2 separate regions of the Homo sapiens genome follow, and region 1 is linked to region 2. Evidence: fine-mapped expression QTL. Tissue or cell type: whole blood. Region 2 holds a variant in brackets; the other region holds the start of a gene. All regions are shown on one strand. Distances are between the middles of the regions.

Region 1 (2,761 bases), 40 kb before region 2:
CTCTATTCTATGTATTTAGTAATCGTTTAACTAATGCTTTCAAGCCTTTTCATAAGCCACGGACCCTACGGGACACTCTCTTCTTTCCCACCCAACACCCACTATATTTAAACCTTAATAAAACTCATCCTTAAAAATTCTTCCGAATTAACTCATCCTAATTCTCTGCATTCCATTTATATTTAACACTAAATCAATTAGCATTCTACTAGACCTTCCTTTCAACTTTTAACCACTTGCATCCACCTCCTACCCCCTTCAAATCTCTCCATCCAGTCTTTCCAATCTTTGTTCTAATATGTGTGTGTATGTACGTATAGCATTAGTACTATAATTTAAAAAACTCCAGGAAATTCTGAAAAATAGAAAATGGAAGGTTAATACAGCCAAAAAAAAAAAAATCATCACAAAAATGCTTCAAGGAAAAACAGTAACAACTCAATCAACTGACAACTGAATCTGACAATACTTTGGAAAAGTACTACTTTAGGTTCTCAAGGACGCAAAGAGCCCTCAACAACTCAATTCAATCCCTGAATTATTGTGAGGCTTTAACAAAATCCCTAGAAAACCTCCAGGCATTACCACCAGCCTTTTAAAAATTACCTTCCAATATTACTAGCAGTGATATTTTTACTAACACTGAATTCCAAACAAGTTTTCCTCCCAAGCAGACTGATGAATAAACAATCTTCCTATGCAGAAACCAAATTAAAACCACTTAAAACCATGGAAGGGATACAGTGATTTAACCCTTCTGTAAGGACTGGAGTGGTGGGCAAACAGGTGACAAATGGAAGGGATGCAGAAAGTGGAAACAGAAATCAGTGAGACTCCTCCCCTTCTCTGAGGGCTAAGGTTCAGCTTGCAGCTCCGGAGGCAAAACCTCCACGGACCCTCTCCCTCAGCGACAAGCCGAATACGAAAGCTTCCAGAAAACCACAGGTCCTCCTCCCCGGCCTCGCACTCACGCCCTCACTCGCCTGGCCAACGCCCATTGATAGCAGACAGTCCCTAGTCCGCCCGACTTCTCCCGAGAAAAGGGTCAACAGAGGACGCCTTCCCCGAGGCCTCCTCCGGAACTCAGCCAGCAGAGACTCCGCAAAAATGGAGGGACCCAAGAAGCTTGAAGAAAAGTGTGAAAATTCTATTACCTGGTCGGAACCCTGGAAACGGAAAGGGCAGCTACAGCCACTGCCCTTCTCCGCCACAACGTCTGCCTCAGTACCACTGACATTGACACCGCCGCCATCTTGCTGCAGGCAAACGCCAGGATGAAAGGACGGATCACCGCAAGGGACTAACTTCCTTCGTTCTCAAGCCAGTGCAATCGCAATGTTGCGAAATTCTTTGGGATTTTATTTTCTTTTTAATACTGGGGCTTAAAAAAAGAGGGGAAACGCTTAGTTTAAATAAGTAAGAAGAAAAATGTGCGGGAAGAAATGCAGAAGTGCATTAACTGTAAATATTACCACCATAAAGTGTAATCTTTACTGCTTGTTAGGACTGGTGTTTTACAATGATAACGAAAAGACCAAAATATACTTGCATATTTAAACACCTGCAACTCGTAATTTATTGAAGAAATTAGGATATTTGGGGCTGAACCCACTGGAAAAGCTGGAGAGCTCTTTGGGTCCTTGAGAACCTGCAGTAGTACTTTTCCAAAGTATTGCCAGATTCACTTTGCAAGCCCTCAGGACAGGGCTGTATTCAGTTTGATATTCTGTAGTAGTAATGTTCGTATTTTCCAAACGAAAAATCTGGATACGTGATCTGGCAAAGGATTATTTTTTGACATGTAGATTTATATGAAGAATCAATAGAACATAATATTTGATGTCACTGTTTCCCCAGTAAATCCTGAATGTGTGTGTGTTCATAATCCATAGACATGAAGAATGATATTAATGCTCCATGCATATAAAACAAAAATTATCTTCCAATACAAGTGTTGGAAACATGTTTGTATTGTGGACTTCCGACCTTAAAGAATAATGACTAACTGAATTATATAAAATAAAAAGCAGGTTAGTTTTGGGTTTTGTTTTTTAAGAAATTTGTTTAAAGAGTTAGTACTTTCCTGCTTTTAAAATTAAGCACATGAAAACATAACCTTCATTAAATAAATAGGAACAATAGGAGGATGGGGAATGACATAGTTTGGCATTATGGACCGTTAAAGGAAAACCCAGTACATAAGGGAAAGGGAGAAAGAAAGAGAAAAAGTCATACTCAGGGAAAGAAATGCACAAGATGAAGGAAGGCAAGGGAGAGATGCCTCAGAGAAAATTTTCTTTCAAACTTTTCATTTTGAAATAGTTATAGATTCACATGAAGTTGCAAAGATAGTACAGATGTCTTGTGTACCTGTTTCCCCCAGTGATTACATCTCGTATAACTCTAGTACAGTATCAAAGCCAGGAAACTGGCATTGATATAAAGTATTTGTGTAGTCCTATGTCATTCTACTACATATTTTGTGTAACCACCACCATGATCAAGATACAGAACTATTCCACCCTCACAAAGATCTCCCTAGTGCTAACCTTTTTGGTAACACCTGCCCTCCTAACCCTAGTGATCTCTGTTTCTGTTTTTATAATTTTGACATTTTGAGATGTTATATGAATGGACTCATGCAGTACATGACCTTCTAAGATTGGCTTCTTTCACTTGGCATAATGCACTTGAGACCCATCCAAGTTGTTGTGTTTATCAATAGTTCATTCCTTTTTTATTGCTGAGTAATATTCCATGA
Region 2 (2,761 bases):
ACTTCTGAGTATATATTTAAGATTTGAAAGCAGTCTGGAAGATATATCCATACACTCATGTTCATAACAACACTATTCACAATAGCTAAAACATGGTAGCAACCCAAGTGTCTATTTTTTAAAAATTTTAAGTTATTTAAAAAATCTTTTTGGCTGGGCATGGTGTCTCATGCCTGTAATCTCAGCACTTTGGGAGGCCGAGGTGGATGGCTCCCCTGAGCCCAGGAGTTTGAGACTAGCCTGGCCAACGTGGCAAAACCCTGTCTCCACTAAAAATACAGAAATTAGTGGGGCACGGTGGCATGAGCCTGTAGTCCCAGCTACTCGGCAGGCTGAGGTGGGAGAATTGCTTGAACCTGGGAGGCAGAGGTGGCAGTGAGCTGAAATCATGCCACCGCACTCCAGCTTAGGCAACAGAGTGAGACTCCATGTCAGAAAAAAAAAAAATTTGTGGGCACACAAGTGCCTATGGATGGATGAATAAAAAAGCAAAATGTGGAATGAAATATCATTCAGCCTTAAAAAGGAGGTAATTCTCTTTTGTTCTTTCCTGTTTTTAGTTTAAGTTCAAGGGGTACTTGTACTGGCTTGTTGATATAATTTGGCTGTGTCCCCACCCAAATCTCATGTTGAATTGTGGTTCCCATAATCTCCACATATTGTGGGAGGGAGTTGGTGGGAGATAATGAATATAATGAGGGTGGTTTCCCCCATCCCGTTCTTGCGATAGTAAGTTAGTTCTCATGAGATCTGATGGTTTTATAAGGGGCTTTTCCCTCTTTTGCTTAGCACTTCTCCTTGCTGCCATCAAGTGAAGTAGAGTGTGTTTGCTTCCCATTCTGCCATGATTGTAAGTTTCCTGAGGCCTCCTCAGTCATGCTGAATGGTGAGACAATTAAACCTCTTTCCTTTATAAATTACCCAGTATCAGGTATGCCTTTATTAGCAACATGAGAATGGACTAATACATTTGTTACATGAGTAAATTGCATGTTGCGGGGGTTTAGTGTACAGATAATTTTGTCACCTAGGTATCAGCATAATATCCATACTTAGTTTTTCAATCCTAACCCTCCTTCCATCCTCTACCCTCAAGTAGGCCCCAGTGTCTTTTGTTCCTTTCTTTGTGTCCATGTATGCTCAATGTTTAGATCTCACTTATAAGTGAGAACATGCAGTGTTTGCTTGACTGTTCCTGCTTTAATCTGCTTAGAAGAATGGCTTCCAACTTCATCCATGTTGCTGCAAAGGACATAACCTTATTCTTTTTTATGGCTGTGTAGTATTCCCTAGTGTATATGTATCACATTTTCTTCATTCAGTCCACTGTTGATTGGCATCTAGGTTGATTCCTTGTCTTTGCTATTGTAAATAGTACTGAGAAGAATATATGCATGCATGTATCTTTACAGTAGAATACTTTATGTTTCTTTGGGTATTTACCCAGTAATGGGATTGCTGGGCCAAGTGGTAGTTCTATTTTAAATTCTTTGTGAAATCTCCGGACTGCTTTCCACAGTGGCTGAATTAATTTACATTCCCACCAGCAGTGTATAAGCATTCTCTCTTCTCTGCAGCCTCACCAGCATCTTTTGTTTTTTGACATTTTAATAGAAGCCATTCTGACTGGTGTGAAACGCTATCTCATTGTGTTTTTCTTTTGTAATTCTCTGATGATTAGTGATGTGGAACATTTTTTCATG[C/T]GCTCTTTGGCTGTGTGTATGTCTTCTTTTGAGAAGTGTCTGTTCATGTTCTTTGCCCATTTTTAAATGGGGATGTTTAATTTTGCTTCTTGATTTAAGTTCCTTATAGATTTTAAATATTAGAACTTTTTCAGATGCAATTATTTGCAAATATTTTCTCCTATTCTGTAGGTTGTCTGTTTACTCTGTTGATAGTGTCTTTTGCTGTGCAGAAGCTCTTTAGATTAATTACGTTCCACTTGTCAATTTTTGCTTTTGTTGCAATTGCTTTGAAATCTTTGTCACAAAGTTTTTGCCAGAGCCAATGTTCAGAATGTTATTTCCTAGGTTTTCTTCTAGAGTCTTTATAGTTTTAAGTTTTACATTTAAGTCTTTTATCCATCTTGCATTGATTTTTGTGTATGGTGAAAAGTAGGGATCTAGTTTCAACCATCTGCATAAGGCTAGTCAGTTATCCCAGTATATTTATTGAACAGGGAGTCCTTTTCTTGCTGTTTGTTACTACCAGCTTTGTCAAAAATCAGAAGCTTGTAGGTGCGCACCTTTATTTCTGGGTCTTCTGTTCTGTTCCATTGGTCTATGTGTCTGTTTTCATACCAGTAACATGCTATTTTGGTTACTGTAGCCTTAAGTCAGGTAGTGTGATACCTCTAGTTTTGTTCTTTTTGCTTAGGATTGCTTTGGCTATTTGAGCTCTTTTTTGGTTCCAAATGAATTTTAGAATGTTTCTTTCTAATTCTGTGGGAAGTGACATTGATAGTTTGATATGAATAGCATTGAATCTGTAAATTGCTTTGGGCAGTATGGCCAAAAAAGTGTAGGAAATTTTGACATATGCTACAACACACATGAAACTTGAGGACATTATGGCAAGTGAAATAAGCCAGTCCCCAAAAGACAAATAATCTATAATTCCCCTTATATGAAGAACTTAGAGTAGTTCAAATTATAGAGGCAGAAAATAAAATGGTGGTTGCCATGGGCTGGAGGGGTGGAGGAATGTGGAGTTATTATTTAATAGATATAGAGTTTCAGTTTAACAAGATGAAAAGAGTTAT

The links. PIP is the estimated chance that this variant, and not a neighbour inherited with it, causes the effect.
Region 1: NDUFS4 starts here. The variant in region 2 is fine-mapped to the expression of NDUFS4 in whole blood (TOPMed, PIP 0.97).

Annotation. Positions count from the first base shown.
Region 1 is chr5:53,559,154-53,561,914 of GRCh38, reverse strand. It overlaps NDUFS4 (NADH:ubiquinone oxidoreductase subunit S4), which reads right to left and starts at 1,276. Exons shown (of 5, transcript NM_002495.4): 1 at 1,155-1,276. The coding sequence starts at 1,252. RefSeq lists an enhancer at 875-1,374.
Region 2 is chr5:53,519,504-53,522,264 of GRCh38, reverse strand. No RefSeq gene overlaps it. Among named protein-coding and RNA genes, the nearest start is that of NDUFS4, 40 kb to the left of the region's middle. The variant C/T (reference allele first, on the strand shown) is at 1,704.